4 linked regions of the Homo sapiens genome follow. The protein of the gene in region 1 purifies or fractionates together with the protein of each later gene. This does not show direct contact. Each region holds a gene or a part of one and is shown in the gene's direction. Other genes may lie near its edges.

Region 1 (5,430 bases):
GGACGCCATGGGTCTGCGGTGTCCCTTACCCACTGGGGGGGCTCGGCAGCCTGAGGAGCTCCCTCTTCCTGATGCAGAGCCCTCACTGCTCACTGCCATGGAGGAGGCAGGAGATCCCGCCGGACCCCGCTTGGAGGGCTGGGCCTGGAGCATGCATGGGTGCGGGGTCAACGCCTCAGGAGACTTGGAGCTTGGGAGCCCCCTGTTCTGGGACACTTGTGGCCGTCCAGCTGCTGCCCTGGGAATCCACACCTGGAAGGTGGGTTAGGGAGCCATCCTTGGGGGAAGCTCTGCTTTTGAGTCTGAGAAGTCGTCCCAAGTTTTGAGGGTCCCTGTGCTGGCTTAGAAGTCCATGTAAAGCTTGATGGGGGATGAAAGTCAGCTGAGGCCTGCCGGTGATAACGGATGCCTTACACACACCGACTTCCAGTCAGCTTGAGGGGGGCTTCATGCAGGAGGAAGCGCATACGTGTGGTGGGGTGTGGGGAGTCCCTCTCTGGATCCTGGTGGGTTTGGCACGCGGACCCTACATGGTGGATGTGATGGACAGTGTCCTCCTTTGGGAGCGGGGCCTGTCCTGGTCCTCTTGTGAAGGGTGGGGGACAGGCACTGACCTGTCAGGAGGGTTAGAGGGTTGGCACCAGCAGGTGGCCTGGAGCGCTCAGAGCACGCGCGATCAGGAAGGCCCGAGTCTCCAGTGTGCCCTCCCTGGCCTTGTGAAGTCATCTTAAAGTCTGGCTTGAGCGCCTCTGACTTGGATTCTGGGAAGCTGACACAGCGCGGCCGGGGTCGCCACATCCTGTTGAGTAGCCGCTGGGTGCTAGGCGCCTGGGTGGTAGACCAGGTGTCAGGGATAGGGCCCATGCCTGGCCTACTGGGGAGAGGACAGAGGCTCAGAGGGGTCACCTCGAGCGCCCAGGCCATTGTGTTCTGCTGGCTTCCAAGGCAGCACACGGTCATGGAACTGGAGAGAGAGGTTTATGGAAGATTTTATCTGGTACACTGGGGAATGGTAAGACAGGGACACCTGGAAATATTGTAGGAAAGTCACAGAGGGAGGAAGGACTCAGCGGAGAGAGGAGAAAGCCGCCTCTGGGCAGCTTCGAGGATACCCAGGACTGTGGCCGGGGGCCATGCAGCTCAGAGCCAGGCCCATGGCAGGTCTCTGGGTTTATTGGGTGGCTGTGGAAGGAGACATCCTGAGTGGGGCTCCTGGCTGGGCCCCTAGAGGCCGTGACTACTTGTACCTGTGCAGAGTGAGCACAAGGCACCTGGCAAGATTGTTGGTCAGGCCAGAGAGGGCCGTGATCTGGGGGAGGCTGTTGCAGTGCGGGGAGTGATAGGGAACCTCATGGGGCCGTGCCGGCCTTTCTGGGGCTCTCTTGGTGCATTTGGAGTTATTCCGAGGCAGGTCTCCTGGGCTCTGTCAGCACTCTGGCCTGGATCACTCTGGGGCACCGTGGGCACTGCAGGGTGCTGGGCAGCACCTTTGGCCTCCATTCACTCCGGGTCAGGAGTACCCCCAGTCGTGACAACCACAAATGTTCCCAGACATCACCCAGTGTCCTGCTGGGGGGAGAGCCACTGTCTGGGAGCATCTGTGCTTTTGGCCTGGTTGCCCCTGCGCTGGGGGCCGCTGCTCCTTGTGGTTTATGGCTTGTCCTGTGTCGGCTCCTTTGATTCCTGTGAATGGGCCTTGAGGGTGGATGTGCTCCTGACTGGCTCGCCTTGGCTCCAATGGTCTGGAGCAGGCCGGTGTCTAGAAAGGCAGCAGCATGGACCCTGGCGCTTGCCCTTCACACAGCAGCTCCCCAGTGGCCCAGAGCTAGCAGCAGCGCGCAGCGTGCCCAGCTGTGCTTGTAGCCTTGGCTCTAACCCTTGGCTTTGCCAGAGAGACTGAGGCACAGAGGAGTTGAGGGATGGGCCCGGGGTCACCCCAGGGGGTGGAAGATCCGGAGCTGGGAGTCCACACTCCTCCACTGCCCGCCCCGCACAGAGGGCGCTCCTGGTCAGGCGGCTATGTTCATGGTGCGACCCGTCAATCTGAGGTTGTGCTGTCTTCTGTGAACTGAGGCCTTTTCCCATCCAGGCCTGGTCCCCGTGACACCATGTCATGATGTCAGAATCCCTGAGAGCTGTGACAGGGCTTTTGGCAGAGGCCAGTCATTCGACAGATGCTTATAGGCTGAGCTTCCAGCTTGGCTCCAGGCGTTGCCAAGGAGAACACTGGTCCGCCTGGGAGGGCGGGGCTGGCAGGGAGAGGATGAGGGTGACCACAGTTAGCACCCAGGATGTGGGCATTCAGGGGCTCCTTCAGCACACAGCAGCGCGTTCCAGTTCACGGACCGCTCCTGTGTTCTGTGGACCCCACACCCTGCAGGCGTGGGCTGGAGGGGGGGCATCTGACCCTGCTGGGGAGAGGGAGTCCAGGCTATGGAGGGGCGGGCTGGGCTCACTGGCCTGAGGCAGTGGGTGAAGTGGTCCTGGTTTCCCACCTGGTCTTAGGGGCAGGAAAGTCCCTAGAGGCTCTTCCTGATGCTCTGGAAGAAGAGAAGGGTTCCCCACACATCAGCCGCCACTGGGCCTGGACTTCTGCCTCTTGAGATTGTGCACGGAGCTGAGTGTGACTGGCGGAGCCCAGAGCCAGGTGGGGTCTGTGGGGAGGCAGGCTCCTCCTGGCTTGGTCCCCCGGCCCAGCAGGAAGGGAAAGGTCGCCTGCCAACTGCCCCCATTGAGGCTGCTGGCCCCGAATGGCCGGGCTGGCCGCCGGTTTTTGAAGCCCACTCTGGTGCTGCCAGGAGGTCAGGGCTCTTTGTGGTCAGCCTAGGCCAGAGGAAGCCTCTGCAGATGGACTTTACGCATAAATACCGCACAGGCACCCGAATGGCACGCAGCAAGCGAGGTTGCCATCCAAAACGGCTTTTGCTTTAACAGGCAGAAGAGGGTGGCTGCGCCGGCCACCGTGGATTGAGCACCTGCCAGGTGTCGAGCTGCAGGCCCTGGGTGCCAGGCTTGCAGATCCTGGGAGATGTTCATCATGACCTTTGATGGGCAGACTGCACGCTGGACTCCAGGTTGCAAGGGAAGAAGTGGAGCTCGTCCCACGCCTCCCCCACTAATGAGAACACCCCTTTTGGGTTTGTGGGGTGTGAGGTCTGTAGGAGCCACGACTTCCAGTGTCGGAGATGCCGTCAGCTGGGTGATGACTCTCCCACCCAGCGGGCCCCTCAGAGGCAGGGTGCAGGAGCCACATTGCTCACCGACCCCTTCATCTGCGTAGGCCAGTGTTGCCTTGCCCCGTTAACGTCCTCAGTCCACACGCCGCCAGCCAAGGTGCAGGCTGAGCAAGCCTGGAGCTGAGGACAAGCGGACCGCCAGCCCCGTAGCAAGCCCACGAGAGCCAGCAGCTCCTCCTTTTGGCCTCTGCCCGCGCCCGGCTTCCTGGACTCCGACGTTTACTTGTGTGAGAGTTGGTTCTGCTGCCTGGGCAGTTGATGGACAGTGTCTGGGAGGTGCCTGCCCAGGGCTCCGCATGTTTCTGATGTGCCGGCTTCTCACTCACGACCTGGTGAGGTTGGCAGCCAGGAGCTTTCTTATTTTATTGATTAAAACATCCTGAGATTCAGAAGTAGGGACTTTGTGCCAGGGCCCTGGAGGCAGTCCCTGCCACTGAAGAGATGACCCTGCTTTCCGGGACTTCCCGGAGGCTTCTGTCTGTAGACCAGGGAGAAGGTGTTCGCCGGTGGCTCCTGAGTGGTAGTAAAAGACACATGGACACAGGAAGCTTTAGCGTTAGAAGCTGCTCTCAAATATCTCAACAGAAACACACAGTGTGGCCGCGCGCGGTGCCTCACGCCTGTCATCCTAGCACTTTGGGAGGCCGAGGCGGGCGGGTCACCTGCGGTGGGGAGCTCCAGACACAGCTATGTGAAACGAAAGCTATCTGTTGCTGTCTCAGATTCCATAAGGACTGAGACTTGTTTCAAAAGAAACTGAAATTCTGTCTTGTTCTCAGTAATGAAAGTCTTTTATACCATAATTGTATATATAACTTCTGACTTACAGGAAAATTACAAAAATTCCCATATCCTCTTGGCCCTGCCAGACTCACCATTGGCTGACATTTTACCCTTTGGCACGTGGTGCCTCTTGCCCCACCCCCAGTGAACTGTGTGTGTGTGTGTGTGTGTGTGTGTGTGTGTGTGTGTGTGTTTAGATGGACCCTCACTCTGTCGCCCAGGCTGGAGTGCAGTGGCTTGATCTTGGCTCAGTGCAACCTCCGCCTCCCGGGTTCAAGCAGTACACCTCGAGCTCAGCCTCCCGAGTGGCTAGGATTACAGGTGCGCACCACCGAGCCCAGCTAATTTTTGTATTTTTAGTAGAGATGGGGTTTTGCCATGTTGGCCAGGCTGGTCTCGAACTCCTGACCTCAGGTGATCCGCCCACCTCAGCCTTGCAAAGTGCTGGGATTACAGGCGTGAGCCAGTGCACCCATCCCCACTGTGTGTGTTTCTACTGAAATATTTGAGAGTAGCTGGAGACCGATGCAGTCCCCTTTATGTGTACACTGAGATATCTATTGTTTCCCAAGAACAATGACATTCTCTCACATGAACACAGCACAGTGATCAAAATTGAGAAAGTGGCCGGGCGCAGCTACTCACGCCTGTCATCCCAGCACTTTGAGAGGCCGAGGCTGGTGGATCACGAGGTCAAGAGATTGAGACCATCCTGGCCAATATGGTGAAACCCCGTCTCTACTAAAAATACAAAAATTAGCTGGCGGGCGCCTGTAGTCCCAGCTACTCGGGAGGCTGAGGCAGGAGAATCGCTTGAACCCGGGAGGCGGAGGTTGCAGTGAGCTGAGATCGCGCCACTACACTCCAGCCTGGGCAACACAGCGAGACAATTTTTCAAAAAAAAATTGAGAAAGTATTTATTATTTTTTAAAATTGTATTTGAGTATTTTTTATTTTTTTAATTTTATTTAAGAGTATTTTTTATTTTTTTTTTAATTTTATTTAAGAGATGAGATCTCTGTCACCCCTGCTGGAGTGCAGTGACACAATCACGGCTCACTGCAGCCTCGACCTTGACTCAAACGATCCTTCTGCCTCAGCCTCCCAAGTAGCTGGGACTACAGGTGCCTGCCACCACCTGGAGTCTCGTTACGTTGCCCAGGCTGGTCTTGAACTCCTGGCCTCCCGTAATGCTGTGATTATAGGCGTGATCTGCGCCCAGCTGAGAAAGACAGTACTGATACCAGGTTATCTAACCCCCCCGGCCCTGTTTCAGGTTTCTCAGCTGAGCGTTTCTAGCCCTTCCCCCTTAATACACAATTTTTGAAATTTAAATGAAGACCGAAACTGGACTGGTCTGACGAGTTCCTTCTGCCAGTGAGGTGGGGGTGGAGGGGGTACTGGGCTGCTT
Region 2 (3,823 bases), on another chromosome or scaffold:
CAACTCCTGGTCTCAAGTGATTTTCCTGCCTCAGCCTCCCAAGTAGCTGGGACTACAGGCATGAGCCACCATGTCCAGCTAATTTTAAAAAATTTTTTGTAAGGATGAGGCTTCACTATGTTGCCCAGGCTGGTCTTGAATTCCTGGCCTCAAGTAATCCTCCTGCCTTGGCCTCCCAAAGTGCTGGGATTACAGGCATGAGCCACCACACCTAGCTGAGAAGTGTCTTGATACATAGGCTTTGGGCTTTGCTTGACATACCATGTGGCACACTGGAAATGTTTAATAAACGTTTGCTGAGTGTATATTTTGCTTTTTTTTGTAAATTTATTTATTCATTTTTTAAAAATTTTTAGTAGAGACGGGGTTTCACCGTGTTAGCAAGACGGTCTCGATCTCCTGGCCTTGTGATCCGCCCGCCTTGGCCTCCCGAAGTGCTGGGATTACAGGCGTGAGCCACCCCGCCCGACCGCTTTTGTTTTTAGTAACAGCTTTATTGAGATATAATTCACATACCATGCAATTCACCCATTTAAAGTGTATAATTCACTGGTTTTTAATATGTTCACAGAGTTGTGCAACCATCACTATTTTAGAGCACTAGTCAATTTTAGAGCATTTTTATCACCCAATAAAAGAAACCCTGTCCCCATTAGTAGACACCACTGATTTCTCCCCAACCCTTCCTCACTCAGCCTATGGCAACCACCTGCTAGTCTCCTTTCTCTGTGGATTTGCCCATTCTGGGCATATGTAAATGGAAGCCCACAATATGTGATCTTTTGTGTCTGGCTTCTTTCACTTAACATGTTTTCACAGTTCATGCTTTTCTAACATGCATCAATTACTTCATTTCTTTTTATTCCTAAATAATATCCTATTGTATGCTTATACCACATCTTATTTATACACTTATTTGGTGGACATTTTGTTCTACTTTTTGGCTGTTATTGGTAGTGCTGCTGTGAACATTTGTGCATAGGTTTCTGTCTGCATGTGTTTTCATTTCTTTTCAGTATATACCTACCAGTACATTGCTGGGTCATAACTCTTTTTAACCTTTTGAGGAATTGGCAGACCGTTTTTCCAAAGCAGCTGTGTAATTTTACATTCTTACCAGCAATGTGAGGTTCTACTTTTCTCCACATCCTTACCAATTGCCTGTCTTCTTTATTATAGCTATCCTACTGTTTGTGAAGGGGTATTGCATTGTGGTTTTGATTTTTATTTCTCTAATGGCCACTAATGTTGATTTTCTTTTCATATACTTACTGGTCATTTATGTATCTTCTTTGGAGACATCTTTATTGAGAGCTTTTGCCTTTTTCAATGGGTTCATCTTTTTATTATAGAGTTATGTCGAGAATATATAAGACTCTTAGAGTTCCCTATCAGATACATAATTTGCACATATCTCCCAGTCTCTGGGTTGTTTTTCACTTTCTTGATGTTGTCCTTTGAAGCACAATACTTCACATTTAACATTAGACCAGTTAAATATATTGAGAGTTAAATCCATGTGAAAGTTTTACTCGTATTACAGTATTGCAAAGAACAATGTAATCAAGTTATTTTGTGGTATATTAGTACTTTTAACTAAGATCTGTTAAACTAAGCTAGAAATTAGCTGACATGTATTATGGTCAGATCTTTTAGCTTTTATTCTAGTTTGCTTTAGCTTTCAATATATTGTGCTCACCAGATATTCTCCTATTTCTCACCCCACATGCACGCACATATCTTTGCATTCATGACTTTTTAATTAGTATTAGAATTTTTTTTTTTTTTTTTTGAGACGGTGTCTAGCTCTCGCCCAGGCTGGAGTACCGTGGTGCAGTCCCGGCTTACTGCAATCTCTGCCTCCCAGGCTCAAGCAATTCTCCTCAGCCTCCTGAGTAAAGGGGTTACAAGCATGCACCACCATGCCCGGCTAATTTTTTGTATTTTTAGTAGACACAGGGTTTCACCATGTTGGCCAGGCTGGTCTTGAACTTCTGACCTCAGGTGATCCACCCACCTTGGCCTCCTGAAGTGCTGGGATTACATATGTGAGCTACCGCACCCAACCTGGTGTTAGAATTCCAGTTAGGTGTTTTCAGACTGCTTCAGCAAAAATAATTTGATGTAGAAGAGAATCTTAGCTGGATGAGCCATTTATGATTTTTATAGATCATTAATCCTGTTGCCTACCACCTCCCCATCCATTTGAATGACTAGTTTGAATATGTTAGGAAGAGTGTATCTCTACAGAGGATAATGCATAGCTATCCTTTTCTTAAATTCCCATTATATATGAAATTTATATATATTTAATTATATATATATTGTTACATTTTTTATCATTTTCCTTCTTTCTTTAACTGACATCCTTGAGCTATCCTTTTCTTAAGTTTCATGCTAAATTCTACCCTGAATTAATGGTGGTCATTTATTTAACACAGTGGTTCCAGAATTCTTTTTTTAAATAATAATTGTGTAGATACAGATATTTTTCCCTGCCCACCAGATAGCCATTCTACTGGAACGTAATGGTTAGCATTCCTTTGTTTCTCAGTTATAGAAGGTCCCTGCAGATTTTAACTCTCAACTAAACAGATGTTAACATGGGGGTGAGATCTGAGAATGCTAGCATAAATTTACGGAGACAAATCCATAGATATCTTCATCATTGGTCATCTGAGGAGAGTAAATCTAGGAAGGGATTATAAAGTTTATTTGGACATTTGGTTTTTTTGTTTTTATTTTGTTTTTTGTTAATCTATATGAAGTCGAGTTGCTCTTTCCCTTTTTTACCCTATTGAATTTTGTTTGAGGATAAACAACTCGTTGTAGAAACTATATCAAGGGTTTAAAGTTTTAATTTTTTTGAATATGTGTAATTTGTATTATTGGTGAAAAGAAAAATATGTATCAGTTTACTATATATATTTCTCCTTGTTCTGATTGTTTGCTTACACATTTCTCTGTTTGCGTTTAAAGTAAGGATCCAGCTAAGTGGTTGGTCATTTAACAGATATTTGAGCTTCTGTTGTATGCCCAGTTTTTCTTAAAATAACCACAAGAAGCCTAAGACAGGGGTCTTGATTTGAAGACATTAGTATGATAGATTGATGGTTTTCCACCAAAGGCAGTTTTATCCCCCAGGAGACGTTTGACACTGTCTAGAGACATTTTTTATTGTCTCAGCTGGGGGTGCTATGTTGTCTAGTGGGCAGAGGCTAGGGATGCTGCTAAAGAAAAGAATGCCAGCCTGGCCAACACAGTGAAACACCATCTCCACAAAAAATAGAAAAATTAGCCAGGCGTGGTAGCACGCTATGTACCTGTAGTGTCCCGGCTATTTGGGAGGCTGATGCAGGAGGATCATCTGAGTCTGGGGGAGGCTGCAGCGAGCCATGATCGCACCACGGAACTCCAGCCTGGGTGACAGAGCAAGACCCCATCTCAAGAAAGAAAAGAATGCACAAGAAAGCCCCCCAGTACAAAACTTATCTGATTCTCAGTAGTGCTAGGGTAGAGAAACCAAACTAACCTGTGAAATAGCTAGGTGCTATTTAATCAAAACAAGTATTTTGAGCTCCAGAATAACATTTTTAAAAATTTATTTTTTTTTTAAGACGGGGTCTCGCTGTCACCTAGGCTGGAGTGCAGCGACATTTTAGTTCACTCCAGTCCTGAACTCCTGGACTCAAGTGATCATCCCACTTCCGCCTCCTAAGTAGCTGGGACTACAGGCTCACACCACCACACCCAGCTAAGTTTTTTTTATTTTTGTAGACATGTGCCCAGGCTTGTGTCAAATTCCTGGCCTCAAGCAATCCTC
Region 3 (3,823 bases), on another chromosome or scaffold:
GGTGCGGGCGGCAGAGGGCAAGCAAGGCCCTTTTCCCTGCTGGAGTAGCCAGGATGCAGTAACTAACGCTCCCATGGGAAGGGATGGCCTCTCTAGAAAGACCTCGTCTCTGAGGTTGGGTGTGCCACATCCTGTATCCTCAGTTTATCTGTTTCGGTCTCAGGGTATCTGCTTCATCCGGACCAGCCGCCCAGAAAATGCCATCATCTATAACAACAATGAGGACTTCCAGGTCGGACAAGCCAAGGTCAGTGCCTCGCATGCCCCAGGAGCCCACAGAGCTGCCTGGACCCTCCCTGCTGTGACTCCCAGCAGTCAGGGCACACCCTGCCCCAGGGCCCTGAGCCTTACTCACCCTCTGTGTCACCCCCAGGTGGTCCTGAAGAGCAAGGATGACCAGGTGACCGTTATCGGGGCTGGGGTGACCCTGCACGAGGCCTTGGCCGCTGCCGAACTGCTGAAGAAAGGTGAGGAGAAGGGGCCTCCAAAGTCATCAACTGAGCGGCCACTGCATGCTAGGTCTTGGGGTTCTTTCTTTCGTTCTTTCTGTTCTTTCTTGAAGAGCTCACAGCTAGAGAGAAAGCATTTCATTTCATTAAATAATGATAGCAATTATAGCCATCCTTTGAGCACTTGTTCTGTCTGGCATGTTGCTAAGTCCTGGGGCTGCAGTGCCCACAGTCCCTACCCTATGACTCTAAAGTCGAGACCCCCCCAGCATGGTGGCCAGATCAGTGGCCTGGAGCCTGCCAGCTGGGCTGGAATCACTCAGCCAGGCACTAGTTAAGGAAGTAAGTTATTCACTGTCACCATGCCTGTTTTCCTATCTGTAAAATGGAGATACTAGCCCCTTGCCCTCAGAGCTCTCCTGAGGGTTACATGCATGTGACTTGGTATTCTATTATTATTACTGCGAGCTCACAGTGTTGGCTAGTGGTTTGTAGGGGAGACAGGCATTGGCCTCTCCTGCAATAGAATCACACAGCAGATGTCATGTTTTAGCACGAAAGAGGGGGCAGGTGTGGCATCTTCCAGAAAGTGGCTTCAGAGTGGGTAGGAATTGATTAGCAGAGAGGAGAGTGAAGGGAGGCCGGAGGAGGGTCAGGCAGGAGCAAGATGGGGCTGGAGGAGCCAGAGGAGTCCATCCCCAGGCAGGGGGAGACCCAGGGGGGTGAGCTTTAAGCAGGGCCTGGCAAGCGTGGGTTTGTCCTTCTGAGAAGGTGCCTCTGCTGCTGGGGCCGCACGTGGGCCTCTGATCACTCTGCGGGCTGCAGCTCCCCAACGTCACCACATCAAGCCTCACCTTCCATCAGGCCAGACACCTGGGGTGTTTTCTCTCGCATTCCCTTTGTCTTCAAGGTTGTGGGAGGATGAGGGAAGGCGCTCAGGGCCTGCACGCTCCGCTCTGGGTTCTTGGATACTGCGGGCAACACAGCTGGACCAGATGCCCCAGTGCAAGGGGTTGGCAAGCATGAGCTCAGCCATGGGAACGAGGTGGCAAGTGGTTCTCCCTGGGACAGGGACAGGCCCGCAGGCTGAGCTCTTAGCTACACGCAGCCCTCAGGATGTCCCACCAGGCCCCCACCAGGGCAGATAGTGGTGCCCAGCCCTCCCCTCAGCCACGCCGTGTGCTCTCCCTCACAGAAAAGATCAACATCCGCGTGCTGGACCCCTTCACCATCAAGCCCCTGGACAGAAAACTCATTCTCGACAGCGCTCGTGCCACCAAGGGCAGGATCCTCACCGTGGAGGACCATTATTATGAAGGTAAGGAGGCCTGGGGCAGGCAGGCTGGGCAAGGGACAGGGCCAGAGAGCCGAGCGTTGGACGTGCCTCTTCTATCTGAGCCCCAGGAGGGCAGCTGTGGCCCAGAACACCCAGAGCTGTCCCTCAGAGCAGCTGGGACGTGGTCTCTTAAAAGGCCTCAGGCTTGGCCTGGGGACCTAGCTAACTCACAGCTGCTGATGAGCTCTGTGGAGCTCCTGCTGCCCAGGAAGCTGGTGAGGATTCCAACCTCGCTGCTAAATGGTGGATGGTGGCGTCCCTGAGGTAGTGTAGGGTGGAAGCTATGGTGCAGCTTGGGAAGCAATGCAGAATTTCTGGTATTTGTGAGTCCTTCACACAGCAGGCTCCCTAAGTACACACCAGCCTCTCTAAGTAGGAGGCCCCAGTGGGAGAGATGGGCTTTGACTCTGGGGTCAAATGTAGATAATTGGACTATGGACAGTGGCTGGCTGGTCACCAACAATGGTGTTTGAAACAAACATTTAGAGGCCATATTTGGGCTTATAAAAATAGTTCTGGGCCGTGCATGGTGGCTCACACCTGCAATCCCAGCACTTTGGGAGGCTGAGGACAGCGGATTTCTTGAGCTCAGGAGTTGGGAGACCAGCCTGGGCAACATGGTGATACCTGTCTGTCTCTTTAAAATAAAAAAAATCAATGAGTTATGTGATGGGCTCATGGCTACAGGTGGAGAAAGGCAGTGCATATGCAGCCTCCTCCATCCTTGACTAAGGCTGACAGAGGGCTGGGCCCACCACTGCTCACCCTGAGGCCTCGTCTTCTGACTCCCCTCCTTTCATTTCTAGGTGGCATTGGTGAGGCTGTGTCCAGTGCAGTAGTGGGCGAGCCTGGCATCACTGTCACCCACCTGGCAGTTAACCGGGTACCAAGAAGTGGGAAGCCGGCTGAGCTGCTGAAGATGTTTGGTATCGACAGGGATGCCATTGCACAAGCTGTGAGGGGCCTCATCACCAAGGCCTAGGGCGGGTATGAAGTGTGGGGCGGGGGTCTATACATTCCTGAGATTCTGGGAAAGGTGCTCAAAGATGTACTGAGAGGAGGGGTAAATATATGTTTTGAGAAAAATGAATTGGCCCTGAAATGTTTTCTTTTTTGATGTGTTTGCAGCCAGTGCAGGTTCTGGGGAAGAAGCGTGGAGGGTGCGCTAGGGAGGCTGGTGTCCTTGGTCCTGGGCCAGGACCTGGGTGTCCCAAGTCCCCTTGGAATCACCTGCAACTGCCCTCAACCTCCAGAACTATCGCTGCCTCCCATTCATCACCAGGTGACATTTGACTGCAACCTGCCTTCTAGCTGAGAGGCTGAGACCTACATCCCTCATTGTGACCTCAGTCCACCTGGCCCTGAGCGGGCTGGGGAACTGCCTCAGTCTGGAAGCTGACCAGGCACTCTCAGGGCCGCCCCACCTCCCCCAAGTCCCCACAGCCTTGCAGTCAGGTCTCCTGGGATAGGGAGGTTCACTTGCTTGTTGTCCCTCGTCCTTGTCATATCCTTTTAACTAGGCATCTCAGAGAAGCAGAGACAGGGCAGCCTTCGTCCTGGGGGAAAAGGGACCCTCAGGATGGCATGAGAGGTCCTCAATCCCAAGTGTGGAACTGTCCCCCTCAACTTGTTAAAATGCAGATTTCTGGGTCTTGCCAATGGGGCCTGGGACTCCATGTGACAACTGGCCCAGGAGCTTCTGATGTCACACAGAATTCTGCAGTCCCAAGCTCCAGCCCCGACCTGCTCTGCTGTTCCTAGGTGACTGCCCTCACACTGCTGACCACAGTGGATTTCTCCCCCTGCTGCTCGGGCTCAGCTGGGGTCAGCCCTGCTTATAAGGTCAACTGTGCAAAACCTTATACTGGCCAAGAACAAACTAGTGCTGGGGGAGGAGGGCTGGGTGCCCCGGCCACTGGTGGAGTCCCCAGGAAATCCTCAGAGCTGTTGCGAGGATGAGACACATTTGTGGACACGTCCACCTGTCCTCCTGACCGTCTGGAGAGAATAAACCTGTCAAAGCCAAGGTCAGGCAATT
Region 4 (3,823 bases), on another chromosome or scaffold:
TTAGGGCTGGGATGGAAAGGTGTCCTCCAACTCCCCACTTGTGTGGGTTCCATCTTACCATTCCTGATATGGGCCCTGGGCCTTGCCTTCCTGTAGAGGTGCCTGAGTTTCAGTTCCTGATTGGAGATGAGGCAGCAACACACCTGAAGCAGACCATGAGCCATGACTCCCAGGCTGTGGCCTCCTCTCTGCAGAGCTGTTTCTCCCACCTGATGAAGAGTGAGAAGAAGGTGGTGGTGGAACAGCTCAACCTGTTGGTGAAGCGGATCTCCCAGCAAGGTGGACACAGTTATATTCCTGGTTGGGTGCAATGCTCTGGCCTGGGCTTCCCAGCAGACACCAGACTCTGGGGACAGTTCTCAACCCCCTTGCCCAAGTGGAACACTAAAAGGGGCCCCACTTAGATGACCTGTTGGCAACTTAGCATTGCTTGCCTAGTCTTTGTGGAGCAGGGCCCTTCTTAGTTGAGTGCTGCTTCCCAACTGGTCATCTTCTCCAGATGGTTGGAGGCAGACTGGCATAGAGGACTCTTAGGATGCCTTCCACCTAGGCATTCTGAGATTTTCCCTAGCCCTGCAGCTGCCCTCCATGGATGGACTTGTATCTCGGGGCTAAAGAGGCAGGAAGGGGACACGAGCATCCTCCCTCTCCTGGAAAGGACTGATGCCTCCAGCACTCAGTCATTTGATCTTTCCTTTACCTTCTGTGTGCCCAACCTTGTGCTAAGAAGAGTTCAGGAAATGACTGTGATGGGTGTGGTCACTGTCACCCTAAAGGTGGGGAGTCAACACAAGCAGTAAGAAACCCAAAACAGAACAGACTCCCAGCAATGAGCTTATGTGGTGCAGGCGATGAGGTCTCAGCTTCTTAGCCTGGCAGCCACAACCCCTTCTCTAGGTGGCCCAGAGCTCTCTTTTTATTTTACCTCTACAGGTTTCCCATTACCTTTGAGCCTTAGGGCATTATTTATTTGACCCAAGCATATTTTTTTCTGTTCAGTGTGTGTGTGTGTGTGTGTGTGTGTGTGTGTGTGTGTGTGTGTGTGTGTGTGTGTGTGTGTGTGTGTGGTCTCTTTCTGTTGCCCCAGGCTGGAGTGCAGTGGTGCGATCTTGGCTCACTGCAGCCTCTGCCTCCCGGGTTCAAGCAATTCTCCTGCTTCAGCCTCCTGAGTAGCTGGGATTACAGGCATGTGCCACCACATCTGGTTAAGTTTTTATATTTTAGTAGAGACGGAGTTTCACCATGTTGCCTAGGCGGGTCTCGAACTCCTGAGCTCAGGCAATTCACCTGCCTCAGCCTCCCAAAGTGCTAGGATTACAGGTGTGAGCCACCACGCCAGGCCCCTTGCCTCACTTTAAAGAAGCCTGGCTGGGCACGGTGGCTCACACCTGTAATCCTAACACTTTGGGAGGTTGAGGCGGCCGTATCACTTGAGGTCAGGAATTCAAGACCAGCCTGGCCAACATGGTGGAACCCCATCTCTACTAAAGATACAAAAATTAGCCAGGCGAGGCAGAGGTTGTGGTGAGCCTAGATCATGCCACTGCACTTCAGCCGGGGCAATAGAGTGAGACTCTGTCTCAAAAAAAAAAAAAAAATGCTGGGCATGGTGGTGTGTGCCTGTAATCCCAGCTACTCAGGAGGCTGAGGCGCAAGAATCACTTGAACCCAGGAGGTGGAGGTTGCAGTGAGTCTAGATTGCACCACTGCACTTCAGCCTGGGAGACAGAGCAAGACTCCGATTCGGAAAAAAAAAAAAGAAAAAGAAAAAGAAAAAAAATTTAAAAATTAAAGAAGTCCACCCTTGCCACTCTACCCAGGCTGAGCTCATTTTCCCTTGTCGTTTCCAGGACACATTTTGGCCCTCAGCGCATTCTGCCTCATGCTCTCTGGAGCAGACCGAGAGAGATTCTCTGAGACATAGAACTTTCTTTTTTTTTTTTGAGACGGAGTCTCGCTGTGTCACCCAGGCTGGAGTGCAGTGGTGCAATCTCGATCACTGCAACCTCCGCCTCCCGGGTTCAAGCGATTCTCCTGTCTCAGCCTCCCGAGTAGCTGGGATTACAGGCACGTGCCACCACACCTGGCTTTTTTTTTTTTTTTTTTTGTATTTTTAGTAGAGATGGGGTTTCACCATGTTGGTCAAACTGGTCTCGAACTCCTGACCTCGTGATCCGCCTGCCTTGGCCTCCCAAAGTCCTGAGATGACAGGTGTGAGCCACCGCGCCCAGCTGAGACACAGAACTTTCAGTGCTAAAAACTAGAAAGTCGCCGGGTGCGGTGGCTCACACCTGTATTCCCAGCACTTTGGGAGGCCTAGGTGGGAGGATCCCTTGAGTTCAGGAGTTCGAGACCAGCCTGGGCAATATAGCGACCCCCTCTCTCTGCAAATAATAAAAAACTTAGCCGGGCATGGTGGCATGCACGTGTGGTTCTCGCTACTCAGGAGGCTGAGGTAGGAGGATTGCTTGGTCCTGGACAGTTGAGGCTGCAGTGAGGTATGATCGTGCCACTGCACTCCAGCCTGGGTGACAGCGAGACCCCGTCTCAAAAAAAAAAAAGGGAAAGCTCGGGCATGTTGGTTACCCTTCATGAAACTCTTTTGCGTTATCTCCCTAGATTTTGAGCTCCAAGGGCAGTGGTTCTCATACAGGGGACATTTGGCTGTTGTCTGGAGCCATTTTTTGATTGTCAAAACCCAGATAGGGGTTGCTAGTGGCATCTTGTGGGTGGAGGCCAGGGAAGCTGCTACACATCCATCAGTACACAGGACAGCCCCCACAATAAAGAATTACCTAGCCCAAATGTCAGTAGCGCCAAGGCTGAGAAATCCCATCCTGAAAGGACCATACTCTAGCTCTTTTAGTGGCTAGTATAGTCCTGGGCATATGAATAGTCAAGATATGATGAAAGATGGTATTTGTATGGACTGGAGTATCAAGCAAGGCTCGACCCCCAAAGGGCTGGAGGCGTGGCCAGAAGGACAGGGCCACTTTGGCTTCTGGATTCCTGTGGCAGGGACCTTTTCCTAGGACTCCCTGGCCAATGTGGGGCTATGAACAGCACTGAGTATCCCCCTAAGTGACCTTGGGGTGCTCTGTGACCCTCAGCGGCTGCCGGAAACAACATGGAGGACATCTTTGGGGAGCTTTTGCTACAGCTGCACCAGCAGTACCCAGGTGATATCGGCTGCTTTGCCATCTACTTCCTGAACCTGCTTACCCTGAAGCCTGGGGAGGCCATGTTTCTGGAGGCCAACGTACCCCATGCCTACCTGAAAGGAGGTGAGCCACATTTCAGCAGTGAGCCCCACTGCCATCCCTGCTGGGCCCTGTTTCCCTATCTGGACAAAGGAAGGAGAAGGGTGGTCAAGGAGACCCCCAAGGACCTTGCAGCTCTGACCTCTGAGGGTTCCTGGGCTCAGCAAGCAACAGCTGGTAGGGATGATGAATGCATTTAGCATTGAACACGCCTTGAATCCTGACACCAACCCTGTGATGCCATGCTACTCTGATTTTAAGTCCTGCCAGTCAGTGTGGGAACCACAATTTGAACGCAGGCTATATTGGATCAAAGCTGTTGTTCTGTCACAGCCTTTGTATGTCTGTCCTACCTACCAGGGATTTTTACACTAAAATATGCATGTTGCCATGGAAGGATGCCACCTTTCGACTGTTGGCTGCTTATCCACACATGCCTCATGCACAGGATTCTGGGGTAGAAGTGGGAGACTACAGAGTTGGGGCTCCCCAACCCCCAGGGGTTAACATGACTCCCCTCTGACAATAATGGGTGACCTGTCACCTGTTTTTGGTATTTGATA

The links. The genes of interacting proteins can lie anywhere in the genome.
Region 2: the proteins of DAZAP1 (region 1) and SNX3 fractionate together in Homo sapiens (co-fractionation; one large-scale study listed by BioGRID). This does not show direct contact.
Region 3: the proteins of DAZAP1 (region 1) and TKT fractionate together in Homo sapiens (co-fractionation; one large-scale study listed by BioGRID). This does not show direct contact.
Region 4: the proteins of DAZAP1 (region 1) and MPI fractionate together in Homo sapiens (co-fractionation; one large-scale study listed by BioGRID). This does not show direct contact.

The regions. Positions count from the first base shown.
Region 1 is NC_000019.10:1,409,821-1,415,250, forward strand, and holds part of DAZAP1 (DAZ-associated protein 1), read left to right. Parts: coding exon of another isoform or gene 1-259; intron 260-5,430. UniProt on the Homo sapiens protein: RNA-binding protein, which may be required during spermatogenesis.
Region 2 is NC_000006.12:108,215,718-108,219,540, reverse strand, and holds part of SNX3 (sorting nexin-3), read left to right. Parts: intron 1-3,823. UniProt on the Homo sapiens protein: Phosphoinositide-binding protein required for multivesicular body formation. Specifically binds phosphatidylinositol 3-phosphate (PtdIns(P3)).
Region 3 is NC_000003.12:53,224,700-53,228,522, reverse strand, and holds the end of TKT (transketolase), read left to right. Parts: intron 1-163; coding exon 164-247; intron 248-373; coding exon 374-467; intron 468-1,644; coding exon 1,645-1,767; intron 1,768-2,591; coding exon 2,592-2,767; 3' UTR 2,768-3,811; downstream 3,812-3,823. UniProt on the Homo sapiens protein: Catalyzes the transfer of a two-carbon ketol group from a ketose donor to an aldose acceptor, via a covalent intermediate with the cofactor thiamine pyrophosphate.
Region 4 is NC_000015.10:74,893,042-74,896,864, forward strand, and holds part of MPI (mannose-6-phosphate isomerase), read left to right. Parts: intron 1-96; coding exon 97-279; intron 280-3,110; coding exon 3,111-3,284; intron 3,285-3,823. UniProt on the Homo sapiens protein: Isomerase that catalyzes the interconversion of fructose-6-P and mannose-6-P and has a critical role in the supply of D-mannose derivatives required for many eukaryotic glycosylation reactions.